Linked DNA regions of Homo sapiens: regions 2, 3 and 4 are each reported to be linked to region 1. Evidence: microRNA targets listed by miRTarBase, many of them from high-throughput screens and not tested one by one. Region 1 holds a microRNA gene; each other region holds the end of a gene's coding sequence.
The links. The annotated mature microRNA hsa-miR-452-5p reads AACUGUUUGCAGAGGAAACUGA and lies in region 1 at 1,860-1,881, shown strand. An mRNA with a match to its seed (bases 2 to 7 or 8) in the 3' UTR can be bound and repressed. Matches are read on the target gene's strand: a 7mer-m8 pairs with bases 2 to 8, a 7mer-A1 pairs with bases 2 to 7 and ends in A, and an 8mer does both.

Region 1 (4,000 bases):
GGAGGCAAGAGGCTGCAGTGAGCTGACATCACGCCACTGCCCTCCAGCCTGGGTGACAGAGTGAGACTCTGTCTCAAACAAACAAAGAAAAAAATTGACTCTGGCCATTCATTGGTGGTAGTCCCTAGACCAAAGCTGGGTGGATACGGAAGTGCTTAGGGCCAGCCTGATGAGGCTCCTTTCTCCCTTCCAGGATGACCATTGATGCCGGATGCTCACTCCACATGCTCAGATTTCCAATGGATTCTCACTCTTGCCCTCTATCTTTCTCTAGCTGTGAGTACCTTCTTAAGTTTCTGGGGCCCCAGAAACATGCTGGGCTCCTTCTTTTTCTCATCCTTGCCATTTACATTTTTCTGCCTCTGCTTTTCTTCTAAAATGCTGCCAAGGTTGTGCAGGACTTCCATCCTCCACCCTCATTTCCTTTCCTGCCAACAATACTGTGTTGCTCATCCCTTCCACGTGCCTCTGAAGCGTATCTCAAGTATGTCTGCTCCTCTCCATCTCCACTGGCACTACCTTGGTTTAGGCCTTTGTTATCTTCCACCTGGACTTTTGCCACATCTTCACTTTGAAACTGCACATGTCCAAAATGAAATTCATTGTCTCCTCCAAACCTCTACCACCAAAACAAGTGTGTTGCTTCTGGGTTCCCATCTGTCTCATTGAAGAGGACCATCACTCACCCAGTTGCGCAAATCAAGAACTTTGATGTTCCCTCTCCCTCACCTCCTGCATCTAATCAATCAGCACATCCTGTTGGTGTTTCCTCCCAGTCTCTATCGATGCTGTCTATTTCTCTGCACCCTGTACAGCTTTGACTTCCACCTGCATTAATTTAATTCTGCCTGGATTACTACACTGGCCTCCTTGACAACATGTTGTCCTCACAGAAGGACCAGAGTGACCTAGCTGAAGGGTCACCTAGGTTGGGTCACTTCTTAGTCTCGAATCTGCCGTTAACTCTCATGGATCAATTTGAAATTCCTTAGAATGAACCTCAAGGCCATTCATGAACTGGACCCTGCCACCCAATCCTGTGCACCTCATCCTCTGTGAGCTAGCCATCCTGAACTTTTGTCCTTTCCACAATACACCAGGTGTTTCACCTTTCTATACTGCCCCTTAACCCCTTCAACCTCATTCTTATTGAGAATATTTACTTGAGTTTCAAGATTTAATGGGAATATCACCTGCTTTATGAAGTCTTTTCTGAGTATGTCCCCAAGTGACCTTTATCTACTTTGTTTCCCCGCTGTTCTGTGGACATAGGTTTTTCAGAGCTCCTCCAAAAATCACAGTAGTATACTCACTGTCTTATAAAATTAAATGTGATTGCTTGAGGGTAGGGTTCATGCCTTGCTCATCTCTGTATTTCTGGCCTAGGGCCTGATACTGAGGAATGCTCAGTAAACGCACTCATTGAATGGACTTCAACAATGAGGTAAGAGAGGCAAGGTCCCACAGCTGGTGAGGCCAGAGACAGGACTCCAAGGCATTGTGCAGGCTGACTTCATGCTATTGGAGACCTCAGGTGGGCTTCCAAGTCTCATAAGACCCTCTTTCTCACATTCCTTTCCAGTTTCCTATCCTGAGAATGAGATGATCTACAAGTGGGAAAATTTCAAGCTTGAAATCAATGAGAAGAACTCCTGGAAGCTCTTCCAGTTTGATTTTACAGGAGTGAGCAACAAAACTGAAATAATCACAACCCCAGTTGGTAAGCGTGCCAGGGCTTGGCGGAAGTCCAGGAAGGTGGTAGGGATGATTGGAGATGGCCATCCATACAAATGCTTTGCAGTCATCCCGTGCAAACATTGTAAGACATGGCTCCTGTCTTATAATTGCTAAGCACTTACAACTGTTTGCAGAGGAAACTGAGACTTTGTAACTATGTCTCAGTCTCATCTGCAAAGAAGTAAGTGCTTTGCCAAGCTCCTTGAGAGGTTAGGTAAGTAGATAAAGTTCTGCTGCTGTCGGAATGTGCAGCTGGCTTTTTCATGCAGACCCTTCAGTTTCGAGGTTACAACTCTGACCTCTTTGGATGACTTTGGGGAATGGAGCTCGTGTGAGTTCTCCATACCCAGAACCAATCCAGTCTGGTTGAATGGGAAGCAAAGTCCATTGTAGTGGGAGGTGGAGGCTAGAGTTCTAATGTCAGCTAGTTTAAGGCTGGGAAAGTCTGGAGGAAGTTACAGCAGCTACACTGGCTGCTGCATTGACATTTATCTTAAAGGAACAAGTCTGAAAAGCACAGATTCTTATCAAAGGCTTCATGGTGGATTCCACATAGACATAGTGGCCACTGGTTTTCTGACCTTTTCTCTGACAAAGACTAAAGGGGAAGGTCCTGGGTATCTTACACTTCAGCTCCCAATTAGATGTGAGCACCTTCACTTATGTTCCTAGGTGACCTGAATGAGGAGCCAAGGGACCTCCCCAGGGTAGCTCCCAGAGCAACCCTGGAAACACTCTTCACACATCCTGACCAAGTTCAGGGCAGTGAAGGCACTGCCCTCATCGTTTCCAGAATGTGGATGGAGCCAGTCACCCAACCAGCCATTTGTCGTGAGAGGCATCTTGTTCTGCTACCATGTGACTAGGCAGAAAATCTGCTTTTGTTTCATTTATTGAGTCAGTCTCTGGATGAGGGAAAGCTCATGCTCATGTGGCTAGAGCTTTGCTTGCACAGTATTAGGCAGGGGCAGAGGGCTGGGCTACCTTAAAAATACTTGCCCTTTTTCTTGGGGACTCTGGGGAAGCGGTTTTACTACCTTTGACTTGGGAGCCTTGCTCTTCTGCCAGCTAACCATGGGCCTGCCTCTTGGTTTTCTGCACCTCAGCTTTTCCCGGATAGGTGGGGACCCATCATCAAAAGTGACAGAGAAGATAAGGCCCAGGGGCTTTCAAGTCACTAGTGGTTCCGTTTAGTAGATGATTGTGCATTGTTTCAAAATGGTGCCCTAGTGACTACAAAGCCCCAGAGCCAGCATCATCATCAAAGCAATGACAGTAGGTAAGCACCAGACCTCCTTGGGAGTGAGGAGGATTCTTGAGGAGAAAAGAGGTCTTCTTTCTCCTCTGCTGGAGACTAGTTGATCTGGAGACGTGGTTCCTTCAATGTCAGAGTTATCTTTGGGACTGGTCTCAAACTCTTCCAGTTGGGCCCTGGGGCAGGTCTCTCCATCTGGAGCATACTTACGTGCTCGGCGATTAAGGGTTCAGAATGCAGTGGTAGCCTGCTACTCTGGCCATCTTGGACCTTGATCCAGAGAATCTCTGCTTCAGGAGCTTCTAAGAGAGTCCAGCCCTGCCTCCAGAGAGAGGCTTGCCCTTCACTGATGGCTGTGGAGCCTCTGATGGAATATTATTGCTGGTCAGGAATTCACTGTCTTACAAGGAGGTTTCCTTCTTCTCTAGACAGTTCTGTTCATCAAAAAACTCTCCCTGTTCTTCTGAAATTGGAGTCTCTGGAAGTTCCACACATTAAGCTTAGTTCTTTTTCCTTGGAACTGTCCAGGTTACATTAGTCCAGCCACTGTTTCACAGGACCGAGATTAAACGATCAACATCATCATTCCCGGCATGGATCATAGTCTGTTGTAGTCTACATAGCCCTAGTTTATTTTTCTTCCCTTATTCTTCAAAGCTTTGGGTCCATTCATTCTTCTAGTCCCAGTCCTCTGGACATGGTCTATTTAATTGTGTCCCTCTGACACTGCAGTGACCAACCATGATCTGGTCAAAGAGGATAAGAGTTTGAGCAGAAAACCATCTTTAGCATATATTTTTTTGCTTTGGTTCATCAGCCCCAGATATATTGTTTTCCTTACCCGTGCTTCTCTCACTCCTCAAGAAGAAGAAAGTGTGTGTTAGCATCTTTCTCTTGTCCTTCAAGACAAATTGGCATCTCTTGACGAGCGGAGAAGGTTCTTTTTTGGCCAGAATAAATAAAATTAAAATAGAATCATCCAACAGAATAATAAATCTTCGTGCAACA
Region 2 (8,020 bases), not on the chromosome of region 1:
CCTCCCACTCCAGCCTTGCACCCTCCATCCCCCCAAGAATTAAAGATTGATTTTATTATAGGTCCATTCCTCTTTGTTTATGATACCACATCTATTTGATTTAAAAAATGCAACACTGGCAGAGATTTAAGTGTTTCACATGTTATATATGCAAACAGTGTAAGCATCAAATATATTAATAGATCCAAGGTAAATGACTTAAAAGTGCACTGTTTATCATAACTTACTTGTTAATCTCACATATACCTTATATCTAACAGGGAGCAGGCCTCATGCATCCATAAACATACTACCAACCAAGCTATTGAACTTGCAATAGTTAAGCATAGCATTCATAAAATAATAGAATTTGCAGAGTTGACACAGACCATAGAACTGTCAGAGACATGGATGTCAAATCATCTCTTTACCAAAGTCAGGAGAGGTGGAGTGCCCCTTAATCACTAGATGAGTGATGGAGTGAGGATTAGAACTCAGCTCCCTGGACCTGGACCTAGGGCTGCTTTGGACACTTTGTTCTTTGCCGTCCTCTGACAAGGAGATGAGAGAGACCAGCTGGGAGAAGATGAGAAAGTTGAAATCTCTCTGATGGCAGGAAGGTGAGTCCTGGTTCCAGACCAGCACCTGGGCCATCATACCACTACCTGGCAGAAGAAGAGATGCCCTTTCTTCTTAGCCTGTATCAGCATTTCAAGTGTTCCATCTGGCTTCAAAGTTGCCCCTTCCCAGGGTAACCAAGTGCTTAGTCGATGGCATTTCTGGAACCAGAGCACAGTGCCTTGTCCTGGTTATTGTATTTGTCCCATTACTCTCTGGTTTTATGGGCTCCCTTTGAAAAAAGTCCCAAGTTCCCTTACCCTACTTCTCTCAAATGGGATCTGAGCATTTATCTTGAGGATTCATAGATGTGATTTTAGGGGACTGTAAATGTCCTGGAGAGGAAAGGGAAATGCGCCTTTCAGTCCATAGCATTCATTAAATTATCAAAAATGTCTATGATGGAATAAGGCTAAGAACTTCTATAAGGGAGAAAAGAAAGGTGCATTTTTTAGAAGAGAAAAAAATCGTTGAACTCAGAAAAACTAGTAAACAGGCAGTAGGTATAATAAACACCAATTTAATGGAAACAGGCAATGCAAATGAATGATAATGCAATGCTAAAGAAGCCTAGGAAGAGGCTGCGTGTGGTGGCTTATGCCTGTAATCCCAGCACTTTGGAAGGCTGAGGTAGGTGGACCACCTGAGGTTAGGAGTTCGAGACCAACCTGGCCAACATGGTGAAACCCCTTCTCTACTAAAAATACAAAAATTAGCTGGGCATGGTGGTGAGTGCCTGTGCCTGTAATCCCCGCTACTCAGGAGGCTGAGGCAGGAGAATTGCTTGAACCCGGGATACAGAGGTTGCAGGGAGCCGAGATCGTGCCACTGCACTCCAGCCTGGGCGACAGAGTGAGACAAGCTTGGAGATGCATTTCCCTTGTGTCTTCTTTCATCCATTTGTTCGAAATCTGAGTTACAAATTGACTTCTGCAAGTCAGTAAGATGGGAGACACCTTCCACCCTCTTCTCCAGCACTATAATGGTGTGCACTTACGCAGACTTCCTTCCAATGATAGGGTAGTTTGGAAGGCCAAGGTCAGGTTCTGTGGCTGGTGGCACCACCTGTGGTGCCAGGAGCTGTGAAATGGGGCAAATAGGCCATCCCCTGGTCTTCTTCTCTCACAAAAAGATTCCTTCAAATTTTTCCTCATGTCTCTGGAGTATTGCATGCTATGATAGGAATAAACAAGGACTTCTGATACCACTAAATTGACACTGAAATGCAGCACCCCTAATTAGATGACACTATCAAGGAGAATAAGACTCGAGACAGGAATATGGCCATTCTGCTGTTCAGCAAAGATGCTGCTGAAGCTCCTTGAGAAAACATGACCACATGGGAGCTGCAGATGGGCTTTGGCCAGGAGTAGCAGCTAGAAACAAGAGGGCAGGGATTGCTACAGCCTACCCCTGTTGTCTCTCTCAGAAGTGGCCTGCCACTGTCAACATCCACGAGAAGCAATGACAGCAGCCACCAACTCATTACGTGCTAAGAGCAAGCCATGGAATCATATTGTTACCTCTCATTTCAATATTTAGGGAAGAGAGCTCCTAATTTATTCTATTTGTTTAAAACAAGGGAACTGAGAAACTCCTTATACCAAATAGCAAGAAATGTTCACGGGAACCCTGTTTGCCAGTTATAATTTTGAACTATTACGTGAAAAATTTCACGCAGGAAAACAAATCATGAATTTTAAAAATGTCTGTTGAACTAGATAGATCTATGGACAATGTGAACCACTACTGTTTGCCTAAAGCATATGACTGTTGACGTAGTACAGTTCAACTGGTTTTCTGAACAGTTTCTCATTTTTTTCAGGGGCTCTGACCTCCAGTGTCAGCCTTCCAAGGAGAGAATGGTAGTGTAATCATGACTGGAGAGCAACTGTTCCAGATAAGAATATTTTGGCAGATTTTAAAAGCAACTATTACTGGTGTTGATTGACTTAAAAATATTTTAAAAATATAACATGTTATAAACCTCTTCAATATCAAGAGGCAGGATATAATGATTTGTATATTTTATTTTGACTTTACATGCGGTGTTAAAAACCCAAAGTACATATTATTTACACATCCACAATACAAGTTTACAAGGTATCTATTCATGTTAAAGTACTCTATAAAACAGTATAGAGACACTTCACTTGAGGGTTACTTTTTATGCCGTACCATTAAAAAAGATACAATCTGCGTTTACCTTTGCACAAATGGATAAAGCATTTAAAAATTAAATTAACAGGATAGAGACTAGATTTAATGTTAGAAATTTCAACATAAATACTGATTGAACTCACATTACAAACTACAAGGAAGCACAATGTTACAAAATGTTATCTGGGGTCACATAGAGTTACTGTTCTGTTTTACACACGCTGGGATTAATATTGGTAAGGTGAATTCAAACACGTTTGTTGTTGGTGGACTGAGTAGTGTTTATCATTGGTTGGTTTAATTTATTATTAATCTGTAATATTTTAGTTGCAAAGCTGAAGTGTTTCAAGAACAGAAATTTTAGCTTTAGCGCTTCCAGAGATCACTGGAAATCACGTTCTTTATAAAACAATGTTCTTTAAAAAAAAGAATAACTGTATCAGTATTTCACATTCTGTATAAAAATGATCTGGTCTTCTGCAACATGTCCTCCCCCAAGTAATAGGTACCAACAGTATTGTCAAAAGAAATCCAGTTGAACTCATTTGCCTGATTACAGCAGGAGCATACCTCTGCCTTGGTACTTTCTAGATTTGGTTCACTAAACAAGTGTGTGGTGTGCAGCATATTAACTGAAACAGTCAGCAGGGTTGCGCATCATCAGCCGTAAGTGGTTTCTGCCAAACTACGTATAAATGACGCTCTATAGTTTCTGCAGGTGTCACATTACCCAGGAAACCTCATTTGAGTTCACATTATCACTGTTTCATCCTTAGGAAAGCAGGAGTGGAATGTTTATCACGGCAAAGAATGTAATGCTGCTATGAGGTCGGATTATGTAACAAATAATTGTCCTAGGTTGTTTCTGTGATTTTTTGAAAAGAGTCTTTTTAGGTGCTGGTTGAAAAACATTTACAACTGGCACTCAGTAAATAATGTGCTATACTGAAAACACTTGACAGATTTTAGTACTTCTATCATTCTCATGAATAAGGCACAAAATGCACAGATTCAGGTAAACTCACATGTGGTATTTACAGTATATTGTCATTACCTGCATGACTTAGGAGAAAATTCTCACATAACACAACACAGACAACATGATTGCACCACTGTTAGGTTTTTACAGACTGTTTCTGTTAAGCCAATTACAATTCCTTTCATATGTCTTTCTTTTGTCTTCTATTTTTGTTTGTTTGTTTGTTTTTTGTTTCTTACCTTGGGGGGTAGGAGGAGTTAAAGGAGGAGAAATTTTACTATTGGGGGGGGGGAAACGAACACAATCAAAATAAAACCTTATTAGTGTGTCCAAGGTTAAATAGAGTGACTCAGGCTTTGATTCACAGTGGACAGGAAAATTTTACTACTGAATACTGGAAAATAAATCAAGGATACCTCTTAATATCTTGATCTCCTTAAGCTGGCAAGACTGGAATACAAGTTTTAATGAATAGCAGCACAAAATCACTTGCAACTCTTACATTCTGGCATTGGGTACCACATAAGTAAAGTTCATCATTTTGATGGTCAAAGGAGCCTCGATTCTATTCCTCTTTCAAAGCTGAACCCAATGGACTCCTGTGGGAAATAGTATTGTCTCTCGTTCGGTCATGCTTAATGTAAACAACTCCATAGCACAAAAAGATGCAATGGGCACCTAAACAAATCCTAGTGGGTACAGAACACACACACACACACACACACACACACACACACGCACACACACAACAAGTTTGTTGGTGGCATGAAAAAGATGCCACACATGAAAAAAAAATGCTACAGCTTGGGTCAAAGATTGAATTTTTAGCAAACTGCTTGGTAATCTACAAGTTCATTTCTTTGAGATATTACCATCTTTTTTTTGACATTTGTGCAAGAGGCAAGGTGAATGCATACATATTAAAATGTTCACATTTAATGGGAAGACCACACATAATGGCAGTCTACATTGAACCCATTTTCAAGTATTTGTTCACAGATTCTTCTGAGTACTGTTATCAGCTCTTTATACTGGTAAGGTAGCCCCTGTGAGCTACACATCTCTTTAGCTTCAAACAAAAGAAATGGAATGACCAGCACCTTCCTTTGTTTTCAGGCAAGTACACAGAAGCCTTGCTGCAGTAGCTACATGTGGCAAGTTCTGATGTTGCCAAAGTTAGAAAGAGTTTCTTTGGCCACTTGGTTCTCTTAAAATACAAGCGAGTCTCTTGTTTTAAGGTACCCTTACAACATCATCCTCTCAACAACACGGACAGGATAAAGCCACATGGGAATAGCACACTTGAGGCCTAGTATGTGTATTTGTTCAGTGGTCTGACAGATGGGGTTTGAGGAACAAAGGAAGGCTTTGGTGGCACGTCAGGTTTTAAGGACGGCGTCCTCTTTAGTCCCGTCCTAGGAAGAGTGCCATTACTGGTGTAGCTGCTCTGTCTGGAGAGGGAAGGCTGCAGATGAACACTCACTGGTGTTCCCTGAATATAGTCCACCTTCGCCCCAGTGGGGGTGGGCATATATCCTCCACGGTTCATACTAGGCTGTCTGGATAACAAAACACCATTTGGTGAGTTTAAGTTTTTAGGCATAGCAGATATAGAGTGCCTCTGGGAGGAATTTTTGTGATAACCTCTTTGTCTTTCCAGAGAAGTCATTGGGACTCCAGGAGTGGTGGGGACATCCACTCGCTTGGTTGGGCTATTTCTGGGGAGAGTTGAAGGAGGGGAGTATAGCGATGCCTCCCGGTTAGGGACTTTAGGTGGGACCTCAGACATCGATCCCATGGGATCCAGCATTAAGTTCTGGTGTGCCATCTGGATGTCTCCCATGATGGCTTTGGGGTTACTATTTGGGTCATTCAGATGCTTCAGGAGATCATTGAGGGTATTTCTGGAATCAACAGAACGCCGGTGATCTCTCTTACTGGATGACTTTGTGAGAGGGTGATCAATGTTTTGAAGCTTCTTTTCAGCTTTGTGAGCATTGGAGTTTGAGAAAGACGTGTTGTAGTCATGGGTAGCATTTGGAAGAACAATGGCACTGGGGATATGCCCATGACTTAATGGGGAATGAGGTGGCGGACTAGACGGAAAAAACTGAGGGGTTTCTTTCCTTGAAGCTCCATGGCCATGGGCCTTTTCTGAGTGGCTCTTCATGGCCTGCAGGGTCTTCTGGTGAAGCACGGGTGTAGACTCAGGAGTAGGAAGAGCAGCCAACTCTGGAGGTTGCCCTCGATGGTCCATTACCATGGATTTAGTATCTCCATTGGGTGGTAGCTCTTTCCGACTGGTTAGCAGGTTACTATACAGTTTAGGAGAATCAATATTCTGTTGGTATTCCTTGACAGGGCTGTCAAAGAGACCATTCAGTTTGGCAAAACTTCCACTGGAGTCTGTGCATGACTGGGCGGACTCTGCATCTTTATGGATCTTTCTGTTTTTCCGAACAAACATGTCTCGATAGCAGTATACTGCCACACCTGCAATGAATGCCCCCAAAACAAAAGCAGCAAAGACACAGGTGATGAGGACATTCATGTGGACCATCTGGTTGGACTCTCCAGACTGGACTTCCCATCGTACACCTGAAATAGACACATGGGACAATGTGAATAAGGTGCTTTTTAAAAATAATAATAAATAGCAAATGGCTTTCAGTGAGCCAACACGACCTTCATATGGTTCATATGCTTAGCTCGGAGGGTCAAGTAGACTCCAAAATTCCTTGTATATTTTGTCTTTAATCAAACTAGGATCCCCAGAGACATACAGGATTGCTGCAAATGCCAGGATAACTCTAATCTCCCACTGATCTGTATTCTTCTGTTCTTTTCCTCCAATCCCTCATAAATAGTTGTTACATGTTAAAAATGTAAGAGTTTCTATCTAAAAAATAGTTAGAAGTGTATATTTTCTAAATAGCTAACTTTAAACTCATATGTTTTGTCTCATAATTTTCTCTTAATTCAGGATTAAAAGGTAGCTACTAGGATATAGGAAAATGTAATAATTAGCATAAACATATGCTAAAATAATTACTCTGATACAATTATACTAACTTTAATATGAACATATAATTTGTTCACAAACCAAAAATATCTGCTTGATCACTGTTAGCTATAAATAGAGACTTTCATGTTTGCTTGGATTTTTTTTTTCATTCCATCTTGGGGTGAAGCACTCTTGAATGACCGACTATGTAAGAAACCCAGACAGTCTAAGGAAACATACTATGTATTAGTTAAGTAAACTGTCAAATTATCTGAAGATATTTGAAAATATTTAAATTAGACCTAGAAAAAGAAGAGCAAATTAGTTTATAATTACTGAAATTAAACTTAACCTTTTAATGCAACCACAGACATCTAACAATTAATAAAAAAAAGTTAGTTTAAGAGGTATTCAAGTCTGTTACATGCTATAAACACAGCTATCCCAGAGTAAGGTAAGTCAGAGTGATTTTGAAGATTCTGTTGCTTTAAGTTAGTACTAAGGCCTTTGAACATTAGTTGTTTTTAATTAATGTTTAATTAATGTTATGGAATTCAGTGGCACTGTGAAAGACCGAGAAAGAAAAGTAGAAAAAAATGGTGTTACTAAAGAAAGCAAAGCAGAAAGAAGAATGATTATAAAATTGGTTACAACGAAAACATATAAAATGAAAATCAACCGATATAAATCATAAATGACAATGTGCTGCCATAAAAACTGATTGGAAACCTGATACCATAGTTTAGTAAGTACTAAAGAATAGATTTTTTTTTCCTAGAGTAATATATTTAATAAGCTAACTCAACAGGCAGCTATTTTATAACTGCTCCTATTACGGGCTGAAAATGATAGTTATGGACGAGCACTCTGTTATGTTTTATTGCTTGTGGCATTCAAGCAACTTAGCATCTCACATATCCTTTTCAGATTGCATTTTGAATTGAAGCTAAACAAGAGTCTGGGAAAGGCTCCTAGACAAAACATCTGATATCAGGATATTTGCAATTAATGAGTTTTGTTTTTTGATGTTGCTGCGGTGACCCTCGAAATTCCCTGAAATCCAGCAGGCTCTCTGCTTCTTCAGACAGAAATCAACACAGATTAGATTGTCTGAGTGGCTGCTTCACCAGCCTTTTCTCCAACAGCTTTCCACCTCTTTTATCTTTTAAGGAATGCACTCAGATATAACCACAGAAAGCCAGAGAGACTGTGGCAAGGGGCGGTGGAGGTACAACCGCAGAAGCTCCTGTGAGGCCCACCTCTGGAGAACCACATACTCC
Region 3 (8,020 bases), not on the chromosome of region 1:
GATTTCTCACCTCCAGACCATAATGTAATAAATCTGTGTTGCTTTAAGCCACTTACAGCAGCTGAAGGAAGCTAATACAATGAGTTAAGTTTGAAGTACCTGTGGGACATTTAGGAGGAAAGCAACAAAGGGCAATGGGATCTTCTGCTCCAGAATGTGTTTCCTTTTTAAAGTTAAATATTGGGTTCCCAACCACATGCATCTTTCATGTGCAAGCTATGCCTCTTCAAGACTTGGTTTTACTATTAGTATTGCACATTGTACCAGATAACAGGGGAAACTGTGGTTGGGTGACTCGGGTTGTTAAATGATGACTGTAAAACTGTAAGAATGTGCCAGTCCGCAGCAAAAGCTTCTTGCACGACAAGAGTCAAGGGACAGCCCAGCATAAGGCTGGGGAACACAGCAGATCCATGACTTCCACATGATGCCTGGGTTGCAACCTTGCCTACTGACTCCCTAAACTACCTTTGTACACCAAATTCAGACTTCCCTGCTTCACCATCTGCAGGATTCACTTGTCATTTTTCAGAGAGGTGGCCCACCCCCTACAGTTCCACCAGGTCAGCAGCAGCAGCCGCGGCAGCTTTGTTCCACAGAGCCAGCCTGTGCAACAAGGAGTGTGATCTATATAATGTTGCTCTGATTTTATAAAAATGAGTGGAAATGAAAAAAAATGAATGTGGTGTTATCCATTAAAAGTGTAAGCCTCATAAAATTTAATAGAAATGAAGATGGAAACCCTTAGGAGTCAATTGTCATCTCAGTGGGATGCCCACAGGGACCTGAGCTGATGGACTGAGGGTCCTGCTGTGAAGGAAATTAAAGGAATCATTGAAAGGGGTCTACTAGGAAGACCATGCAGAGTGAGCATTTACTGAGTGCTTACTGTGTACTAGCACTTTACATCCATAACCTCATTTGATCAGAGGATGAAAGCATCAGCTGATTGGGTAGGTGCCATGCTTATCCACCTGGGAGGTTAGAAAGTTGTTTGGACTCAGAAGGCTTAAAAGGTTAAGTAGCTTAAGGAATCAGAACCAGTAAGTGGCAGAGCCAGAATTCAAGCCCAAGCAGCCTGACTCCTCCCCATGTCCCTGGTTGCCACCATCACCTCCCATTATCACCATCCTGACATCATCTCCCTATCTCTCTCTGCACTCCTTTTATCTTGTTCAGACTGGCCTCTGGGACATACCAGATGCCCTTCTGCCTTGGGGCCTTTGAACCTTCTTTCTTTTTAGAACACTTTTCTCCCAGATGCTTCTCATTCCTTCCCTCCCTTTGAATCCATAAATGTCTCAGTGAATCACATGGTCACCTCTCCTACAGTGGCTGGATGCGCTTTCCATGTGTCCCAGGAAGGCCCAGCCAGGACACGGGAGACAGACTGGGACTGGGTGTGGAGAAACCTTTGAGTCCCTCTGGGCTGGGGTCAGCTGCCCTGTGGAGGCCGGGAAACCAGTGCCTGGGGTGCTTTTGGCACTCCCCAGTCATGTGTGGAATTAGGTGGTACAGTAGTTTCACTTGCATGCCATGCAGTCTTCCCATTCATTGTGGCTGAACATCTGGTGGGTACTCATAAAAATTATATCATGGCCTATGCAGTGCCATGTGGAGCAAAGTGGATGGCTCCATCCTTCACAGGATGACCTTGAGGCTGGAGGGTGAAAGCAAGAAGACTTCCAGCCCCTCAGAATAGTCGTCTCCCCAGGGTCCCATTTCCCGGAGCCCTCAGTAAAAGGGCTGCATCCTCACGGCATGATGGGAAAACCGACTGACTTCAAGAACCTGAAGAAATCACACAGAACACAACAGCACCTCTCCGCACCCTCAGGACCTGGGAACCCTGGTCCTCAGCTCTACAGCTGGTAAGGGCTCATGGTGCCTTTGACTCTAACCTCTTTCATGGTGATTTACAGATCTTGGATGTCTCCTCTGCATGTTCAGGATTCAGATAGCCTGATGAGAAAGGCAGTACTGTTTCCAGATGAGGAAACCAAGGCTCAGATCGCTGGCTGTCTCAGCTTCATCTCACACTAGTGCTTCTCTGAGCCCAGACTTTTGGCTCCAAGAACAGTGCTCCCTCCAACACACTGGGACATCAGCACACAGTCTGTGAGGAACATGTAGTCGGCGGGTGCTTATTGTCAGACTGTGGCTCCAGAATTCAGAAAACCCCATGCTGAATGAATAAGCACTTCAAATTGGTTGGAGATGCATTCCCAAAACACCTCTCAGGGTAAGCCACGATGCTTCCCAACTAGTGCTGCTTCAAGATGTGGCTAAACACCTCCAACAAAATTCTCAGATAGAAAAGGCAAGAGCCATTATATTCATAAGTCAGAATTTATTTCATACCATCTCACTTATAGCATTTTCAAGTACAACATTCTGCTCAACATCATTTACACTTGAAAACAGAAAAGCACAACTTGGTAAGGCACCAGGTTACGATAGTCTGGAGAGAAGGCCTTGCTCCCATTTTGGCTTGTGTAATACCTGGGTAGTTTCTCTTGAGTCTGTCAAGCAGAGAACAAGGTTATAAAAGGTCCATTTATACATACATGGTAACAAGAGATAACAAACAGTTTTGAAGTATGCTGTATTTATAAATTATAATGGTGGCCTACACTTGTAGTTCAGCCAAAGTGGCATTCTCTAAAGCAAAATTCTTATAAAATCTTCTCTGCAATACCAAGCTGCAAGTTTAACAATTTTTTAGCTTTGAAGTGAACCAACTTTATATTTAACTCAAACACATACTTTAAAAACATTTTCGGCCCCAAACTCTATGTTCACGAAGAAATAAAAATGGAGGAAAATCTCAAGTATAATCGTACCTTTACTATTCTATAAAATGCAGCAATATATTTTAAAAACTGTTGCATTTAAAGGTCAACCCACTAGATTTTTAACACTAACAGTCCAAGGTGTTATCAACCCCACTTAAAATTCAACTGTATAAAGCTTTCAGAACTGGGCCACACAGGTGTACTTCACTGAGCACTTTCCACCCATGGCCTAAAGGCAGGAGGTGTGGAAGTCCCCTCCAGGGAGACCAACTGCAGCCCCATACACTGTCACACGCATAAAACTTCTTTCAAGTTTTGTGTTCTATCTTAAAAATGAATTTGCACTATACTCCATGCCATTTACTTTAATATAAAAATAGTGTTTCAAATCGCTTACCAGTTAAATAACTCATCTTCCCTCCCACACCTCCAGGCACCAGACAGGCAGAGCCCAGCCTGGGAAGCCTAGCTTTCCACAGATAGGTAAGCCAGGCGCGGCAAGATGAGACTGTATTCAGTTAGGTCTATTTTAAGCATTTCCACAAATCATTTTATTCCTTCAGGTTGTAACTAAATGCTTCAGGAAACTATGACCGACATCAATTCCAATGTGTTGAATAATCAATCAGTCTATGTATTTTAGTGGTTTAAAGATTAATCTTTTGTTAAACAAAGAAATTTGTTAATTTTATTTACTAACAGGAATAAATAGAACCCCTAACCTAAAGTATAACCTGATCTTTTACTTTTTCTATAGAAAAACACAAACTGGATTTCTTTTTAACATAAAAAAGACAACACAAAACCCACAGAAAAATAAAATTCTTCTATCTAACTGGCTTTACAGATTTCCCTCATTAGTTGTGGATGTGACTTTGGTGGCTCTGGGTCACCCACCGCAAGCCCGACCCTGCAACTGAGTGTTCAGGCTGCCTTGTGGTGTCTCGGAAGCATTCCTACCAGAGTAAAAGCTATTCTCCTGAGATGGCACCTTTTTCTCCAGAAGATTCAGCCCTAACAGCTGCCACCTTGAAGGATGTATTTCACTGTCACAGGAAGCAGCCAAGTATGGGGGCCATGGTCCCGGCATGCACCTGGCTGGCTACACGCCCCGCCCCTCAGGAGTCCTCAGAGTCCACTGGCCTCTGCTGCTACTGCCCTGAAAGCCATCTGTGGCTTTAACTGGTTGTTTTAACAGGTTTCAAGAGATGTTCATTTTATTTTTTGTTTAGATTTAAGATGTCCTAAAAAATGTATATATTAAGATACACTTAAAAACATACTCTGAATATAATAAAAAAGATGTTGGTTCAAAAAAGGGTCAACAAGAAGAGGAAGCCAAGCTTCCTAGCATCTGTTTTTGTGGCCACGCTTTTCCCCATTAATGGTGTGAAAGTCTGAATCAACAGCAAATACAGCCATACAGACCTATGTATCTGTGTGCATGAGTGTGCATGGGTGTGCACACAGAGAAGTACATCTTGGCCGACTTAAGAAAAAATTATCTGTGTTGTGTCCCACAAACACTTGCTGTTGGCCTTTCAAGAGTATTCACCTCCCTGCCGAAGAGACAGCTTGAGTATGGAGGTTTAAAAACAATCCAGACAGGTGCTCCCTGTTGCCCTCGTTACCTAGGATTGAGGCAGTTTGGTGCACGTATTACAGTACCGAAAGCAAATGTCACTTTCTGATCTCCACAGGAACCACTCCCTAAAACATGAAACTACTGACCAACACTTGCTTTCCTCCGCATAGCACTTTGTCTGTGTTCATATGTGTCAACACAACTGGACTAAGAAAGAAAAGTCCCAATAAGGAAGTTTCCTTTTTTGACTACAGAGTGCCATACAGTCAGTGGGATGTTTTCTGTTGGTTGTTTTTAAATCATAAGTAACTGGGTATTAGCAATTGACAAAAGTGACTGGTTTGAGGTTTTGTAGGCAGAGGTCTCTCACTTTTTTTCTCAGATTTTTGCTCCTTAAAAAAAAGGCATGGTTTGCATGGAGTTTCAAAGCTAAGAACTATTGTTACCATGGTTGACCTGTGTACATAATGCACTGTGCATTAAGTAGCCCTTAATCAAGAGAGGGTTAACCATAGTGTTCCTCCCTTTTGCTCTTCTGTACATTATAATGTAGCAGAACTTCATTCTTAACATCCAGATTAGAGGTGTCTTCTTCATATTAGATATAAATTAACCAGAGGTCTAGAACTCTAAATTTCCAGAGATGTGAAAAATGTTTAATTTACTTCAAAAATATCTTGCATAAGTATCTCATCCCTAAGCTCAAACAAACAAGAAAATTAAAGGCAGAAAGAATACATAAAATTGAGAGCTCCTCCTATAATACATATACACACACTCTCGATATAGGTTCTACGCAGTAAAAGGAGTTGTTTCAGCTAATATAGCTTCTAATATCGATTTCATCTGAAAATAGCCTTTCTGGGTGTCTTGCCAGCATCATACGAAACAGCAGTACTTCTTCCACCAGGACTTGGAGAGGTTTTTCATTTTATCTGGAGTCCTGCTTTTAGACTTCTTTGGCTGTTGCTGAGTGTCCGAGTATTGAATGCCAGCGACGATGGCTGCATCAAAGACCTCTTTGAGGTTTTTTTGAGTCAAGGCTGAACACTCGATGTAGGAGGCGGCTTTGATTTCCTCGGCGCACAGCTTAGCCGCCTCTTCAGGCACTGGCTTTTCTTTGCATTTGTCCAACTCAATGAGGACTTTGACATCTTCTCTGAGATCCGACTGCGTTCCAACTAGGATGATGGGGGCTTTGGGACAGTGGCATCGAATCTCCGGCACCCATTTCTCACTGACGTTCTGGAAGGATGAGGGGCTCACGACACTGAAGCAGAGCAGGAAGATGTCTGTGTTGGTGTAGCAGAGAGGCCTCAGCTTGTCAAATTCATCCTGCAACCAAGCAAAGTACCCAAAAGTTATGTTTTCATGAATTCTCATCAGTAAAAAGATCACCTTCACATTTTTCATGAAAGGGTCTGGCAGGTGATAGAAGACCCGCTGGTTCTAGAAGGAAGAGCCAGCATCCTTGAAACGATCCTACTGTTTACCCAAGCGGGGCCAGTGCACCAGCGAAGGTGTGGCAGCCATCTGCTTTCAGGGCCAGCTATGGTCTGAACACTGCCAAACATGTTCAACGTGTTCATCGACACTCAAGACCTACTTACAGCTTAACATAGAAAAAGTGCTCAAAGTAGGTGGGTTCTAGAAATAAAATGGACTTAAGCCTTCAGCTGAGTGTAACCCAAACCTACTCTCAACTCTTGGTACTTAGCTACTCTTCTAAAATTCAGACCACACCCATATTGATCCTCAAGACTCCCACTCAAACCCAGTCTACGAACACAGCTCCTCTCTTTATCAATCCAGCCCTGCCTTTCCCAACAGCTCTGAGTGATGCCAATTTCATCCCATCTGCACTGTGCACACGCTCTGCCCACACTATGCACAGCAACGCAGAGTAATGCTAATCAGACTCAAGGCCAGACCAGAAATGGAGTTGAGGACCTTTGTCAGTCCATTGTCATCGTGACTCAGAAAACTTTTGCAGCTCAGTGCCACTTACAGACACTAGTTAATACATCCTCATTCTGGCTGTATCTTCTCTTCCTCCCTCCTTCCTTCATTTTCTCCTACTTCCTTTATCCTTGCCAGTACCCATGGCCTCCATGTACAGTGCTTTGGACAGATAAGAACTGGAGAATAGGCACGCCCACCCTACCCTTAAAGTATAGAGAAGTGGATAGAATAAGTTAGAGTTGATTACAAATAAACCAACGGTTGTGCTGCCAATGCTCTCCCGTGGTCATCCATTTAACAGACACACTGAACATCACCTACACTCAAGGCACAGTGGCAGGCGAGGGGATTTGGCTGTGAACAGACAGATGTTGTTCTCCAAATTACCATTTCTTTACAGAAAACATCCTATAGTTCCCTGTAGCACCATATTCAGCTAACTGACAACTTTTGCTCAACTCTTTTGTAGAAAAATATTTACTCTTTCCTATGTAAAATGTATATCTGTTGGTGCCAACCATCCTCAGGTATAAATAATTTCCCAATGACAAGAAAAAGTTCAACGCCATTCATGTTTTTCATTACTCAATTGACACACTCCGATTATTTACCAAGTACCATTTACATCACATTATACTCCATCCGTGGCTTTTTTCTCTTGGTATAAAAGAAACCTGTAACTTATTTGAATGTACTTTCTTCATTTGAGGCCCCATGTTTCAATTACGGGACGACAGCCAACCAACTAATCACATTAAAGTCAACCAGCTAAAATGCTCAGCAATCAATGTGGTATTTCAGAATGTCACTTGTGAGGCTTCTGTAAGCGAAAGTTGAAAAAGTATGACTTAGCCAAATGTGGTGGCACGTGCCTATAGTCACAGTTACTTGGGAAGCTGAGGCAGGGGGATCACTTGAGCCCTGGAGTTTGAGACCAGCCTGGGTGACATACCAAGACCCTGCTCTCTAAAAAAAATTTTTAAAAAGAAAAATAATGACTTAAGTTTCTTCATGCCAACTTTGTGATGAATAAATAAACACAGAAACACAGCCAGGTAGACTATGGCTCAGTCATGAAGATCTTTTAATGGAATGCTCCCTCTGTTCTTAGAGGGCCTCAAAGAAAGAAGCATAAAACTGAGACCAGTATTAAGGCAGCCCCCTCAGGTAGCTGCACCCCTGGCCATGCCCTGGTATCTGGGGTTGCATTACTGAGAAAAATAAAGGCAAGCACAAGGGCTGGGACTTCTGAGGGGGCTTTGGAAAGCTATCTCCCCAGATCTCTTGAGATTCTGGCTAAGGGGCTTGAGAAATAAAACAGAAATTAGACCCTCCTGCTCAGTGCCTGACCTGAAATCTTAGAAATAATGCAATACACACGTGCAATGAGGACAACTGGAATGCACCCTTAAGAAAAGGCGTTCTGAGGCCAAGCAATTTGCATGTGCTTGCCAGGTCTGTGGTACGGACACTGCACAGAAGTCTGATCAGGGTTGGCGGGGCAGAGAGACGAGACTGGATTCTACATCCCTCTGGTCTAGCTGCAACTTGATTTTTTTTTTTCAGTATAAGATTTTTCCAAGTACTTTATGGGTCAAAAGGCTGAAGAATTTTCAGCTTCTATTGGCAACTCTCCAGTGAACTACTCCTATTTCCGCAATACTTTTTTCTCTTATGC
Region 4 (4,000 bases), not on the chromosome of region 1:
TTAGCAAACTAATGCATGAACAGAAAACCAAATACCACATGTTCTCACTTGTAAGTGGTAGTTAAATGATGAGAACACATGGACACATAGAAGGGAACAACTCACAGTGGGGCCTCCCAGAGGGCAGAGGGTGGGAGGAGGAAGAGGATCAGGAAAAATAAGTAATGGATACTGGGCTTAATACCTGGGTGAGGAAATAATCTGTATAACAAACCCCCATGACACAAATTTACCTATATGACAAACTTGCACATAGACCCCTGAACCTAAAATAAAAGTTTAAACAAAAAAGAGTTATCTTCCTGATCATCAGAGGGAAATAGGACTACTATTAAACAATGGGTGTGGGAAGAATATGTTTGCACCCAACTGATTCACTGGCGCATCTCTTGGTATTTCCCTAAGTTTGATAATATTTAATAGATGGACAAGGGAAGAAGCCACAGACTGAGAAGGACGTGGTGACCCAGGGCTCACAGTCCTCACGATAAGCATTTGGATAGCCTTATAGGTAAGCCACCTAAACCAGCAGAGGTGTTAGGATAAGGAAAATCAAGAACTGGAGGTAGAAAAAAGAGATTATGGGTGTACATCTGCTGTCCCAAGACCAGATGCAGTGGTAGGGGCTAAATTTATCCACTAACCTTCCTCTTGTATGTTTCTGCCAGAAAAGAATCCCAGAAGACCTTTCTCCAGATGTAGACTTTTTATACAAAGCAAGTAGATTTGAGTTTTGCAAGATGTGGATTGTAGTGGAGGCTGTGGTGCACCACTCACATCACTTCCTTGAGGACTAAGGTGCTCATTGTCCAAGCTTTTGGGAACATTGCCTATTGGATGCTTGTAGCTGAGACTCTACCACAGATCTGATTCCAGCCAAAGGTAGCTGTCTCATCTAGGGTTATCCCAAAGGATGATGTCTAATTCTTGTCTAATGAATATTATACCCTCTCTTACCTCACTGAGGTATAATAGTTTTACTTTTTAAATGTTTTTTTGGCTTTCTTATCCTGTAATCATCTCTATTTCTTCAGAGTCTTTTTTGTTTTAACCTTTTTTCTTCTTTGCCTTTATATTAGGGGACTTTATCAAACATTTGAGAATCCCTTGGCAGTCTGTCCAGTCACATTTAAGGTGCAAATATGAGACCTTAAAAAGCCACCTGCAAGCTCTGGCGGAGGAGATTCCATCCGATGGGTTCACTCTGAGGTTATCGGAATTGGGGCCCCCACCCCCTTTCAATGTACATATTTTCTTTTATCTTGAGCAGATCCATTTTTCTAGAAAAGGAGTCCTCCACTGTTATGTGTCTATGAGGGATGGGCAGGTAGGTTATAAAACAGCTCCAAGGGCTGATAGTGGGGTAAGAGGGTCTCATTAGTCAGTATGTGAACAACCATGGTCTTTTTGATTGCTTGTGGCTCCTCCTCTCTTAAGGATTTCCCTGAGCCATAGTCCCTATGAGAAATGTCTTCAGAGAAGCAGCCTCCATTCTTCTCCCTCAGTTGGGTAAAGTGTGGTTACGAGGCTGCCTCGGAGAGGGGAAAGAAATTTGGTATAGTCTTTCAGCCAACACTCCCACTTTTGCCTTCCCAGTGCCCACTTTCAGAGCTACTTCATCCTACAGTCTGGAGCCTTTCTGGAATTGTGCAACATGAATCACATCTTGGTTTTTCCACACTAAACTTATATTCTGGCTCACCCTACTCTGCTAAGTCAGTTACCTGCCACTAGTCCATCAGTGTTCTATCTTCTAACCATTCTCCTTGCCCTTCTCTATTGATGCCTTTATTTCCTTTTGCTGTCACTCAGTGTGGTTTCAAGAGAGATCAGAGGTAAATATATGTGATCAACTCTCCATGTTTTACCCCCACCTATTTTATAGATGGAGAAACTAAGGCCCCGGAAGGGATTATGACTTGCTGAGGTCATACAGCATTGCTAGGCTATAAATAATATTTTCATGTAGATCCCCAGGCCAATGTTCTTTGTGAAGAAAACAGGAGGAATTCAGGAATTCAATAGTGTGGTTTGGTTTGGGGAGGGGGTATGTATACAGAGAGAGCACTGGTAGGGGGATCCTGAAATAAAATGAAGAGATGGGCAGAAAGAAGGGAGATATTTTCATCCTTAGGTCTTTTGGTCGCTTATATTTGTCTTCAAATTCTTTCAAGATATTTATTGTGTACAGGACCCTCTTTCTGTGTTTCCCACTATTCTATTGCAAGACAGACTTCTCACTATTTCTATTCTGTACTCCATTCTTTCCCAAAAAATAGATGGTATTTTAAAAATGTGGTTCTACTCAACTTGCCCATATCCTCAAATGCTTGCAATGACTCCACATTGCCTATGGGATAAAGTCCAAATCCCCTCGTTTTTCAATAATTTTGAACTAGGTGAGGAGAGAGGATGACAAGGAAAAGTAGAAGGAAGAGATGGGAGTAACTTGACAAAAGAAGGGAATAAGTGTTGCTGATCAGGAGAGGTTGAAGATGACTCTGAGGTGAAAAGTTTGGGCGACTTGGGGGATTTAAAACAGGAGAGTCAGAGGCGTTGAGCTTGGCTTTAAACATGACAGCCACACAGAAATGCCTAGCAGACAGATGAAAATAGGAGGTGAAGGATGCATCAGAGGATCTCAGGATTGGCAAGTTCTTCTGTGATTCCCAATCCAATGCTGAAAGAAGTGAGAATATGATAGCTCCAAGGATCATCAAATCAAAGGGAATCTCTTTGAGATGGAGATATTTGAGTGGGTTTAAGTAGGGGAGAAAGAAGAACAAGAGGAGATGGGGCTGACTGGTATTTCTAATGTATAAAGTGCTCTTTTTTCTATCAAACCTGAAGCATACCTAAAACATAATTCCCTGATTCATACTGTAGTATTGATAACTATATTCATTTCTTATTGCTTCTCTAATAAATTACCACAAACTTAGTGCATTAAAACAAGACAAGTTTATGAGCAAGCAGTTCTGAAGGTCAGATGTCCAAAATCAGTGTCACTGGGCTAAAGCCATGTGCAGGCAGGGCTGGTTCCTTCTGCAGACTCCAGGGGAGAATCTGTTCCTTTGTCCTTTTGGGTTTCTAAAGGCTGCCTGTACTTTTTTGCCTGTGACCTCTTCCTCCAACTTCAAAGCACTTCAACCTCTTGTTCCATTGACAAATCTCTTTTTTCTGATTTTGAGCTTGTTGCCTCCCTGTTACAAAATCCTGGTTCTTATCCACCCGGACAATATGAAATAATCTAACCATTTCAAGGTCCTTAATTACATCCGCAAAGTCCATTCTACCATGTAAAGTAACATGTTTACAGGTTCTGGGGATTAAGTCATGCATATGTTGGGAGACACCATTATTCAGCCTCCCACACTTTCTGAGCTAAGTATATTGATATCACTGAGTGACTTAGTGAATGAATGATTGAAGACTTTTTAGCAATTCGACAATATTTATTACTAAATCCATTATGTACTTGGTCATGTTTCATACTGTTTTCAGAGGATGGCTAGGAAACCAGTGTTTATTCTACAAACTTGATCCTGCTTGGTCTCAAAATGAATTTTCAGTTATATTAAAGTGGCAGCCAGTTCATTGACTACCATGGAATTAAAATAAGAGAAAGTGGCAAGCCTATTTTCATCATTCTGATGTAAAGCATTTGACTACAATAAATACAAGCAGCAAAATAAAGACACAGATGTTCAGTGGATCTGGGTCTCGACTGGGCCCTAATTTCTCATACCCACTCCCCTTAGCCTCTTTTGCCTCAGCTGACTGGTTCTTGGCTTGGTTTGCGAGGTACACAGCACCAATTCCAGGTGAGGAATTCCCAGTCTTTAGGTGGGGGAGTAGGGATTTGGACGGCTTTGTCATGCAGCTTTTTAAGCCCTGTCCACAGATGCCCAAAGTGCATGCCTCACAATTGGCTGTGTCATGGGATCCTTCCAGGGACACTTCCAGGATTACTGGCATTTCTGGAGACTTCCTCGTGCCA

Region 2: miRTarBase lists SEMA6D as a target of hsa-miR-452-5p. Seed matches in the 3' UTR shown: 7mer-A1 at 4,747-4,753, 7mer-m8 at 3,887-3,893, 7mer-m8 at 3,518-3,524 and 7mer-A1 at 2,958-2,964.
Region 3: miRTarBase lists RHOU as a target of hsa-miR-452-5p. The part of its 3' UTR that is shown has no 7-base or 8-base seed match.
Region 4: miRTarBase lists RTP4 as a target of hsa-miR-452-5p. Seed matches in the 3' UTR shown: 8mer at 3,493-3,500.

Annotation. Positions count from the first base shown.
Region 1 is chrX:151,957,559-151,961,558 of GRCh38, reverse strand. It overlaps MIR452 (microRNA 452), which reads left to right and starts at 1,847; the gene lies at 1,847-1,931. GABRE (gamma-aminobutyric acid type A receptor subunit epsilon) reads left to right here. Exons shown (of 9, transcript NM_004961.4): 5 at 194-276; 6 at 1,583-1,720. It overlaps MIR224 (microRNA 224), which reads left to right and starts at 2,901; the gene lies at 2,901-2,981.
Region 2 is chr15:47,768,811-47,776,830 of GRCh38, reverse strand. It overlaps SEMA6D (semaphorin 6D), which reads right to left. Exons shown (of 19, transcript NM_001358351.3): 19 at 2,603-6,334. The coding sequence ends at 5,046. Among named protein-coding and RNA genes, the nearest start is that of SEMA6D, 55 kb to the right of the region's middle.
Region 3 is chr1:228,740,980-228,748,999 of GRCh38, reverse strand. It overlaps RHOU (ras homolog family member U), which reads right to left. Exons shown (of 3, transcript NM_021205.6): 3 at 2,336-5,715. The coding sequence ends at 5,260. Among named protein-coding and RNA genes, the nearest start is that of RHOU, 9.5 kb to the right of the region's middle.
Region 4 is chr3:187,371,019-187,375,018 of GRCh38, reverse strand. RTP4 (receptor transporter protein 4) reads right to left here. Exons shown (of 2, transcript NM_022147.3): 2 at 2,943-4,000. The coding sequence ends at 3,646. Among named protein-coding and RNA genes, the nearest start is that of RTP4, 4.6 kb to the right of the region's middle.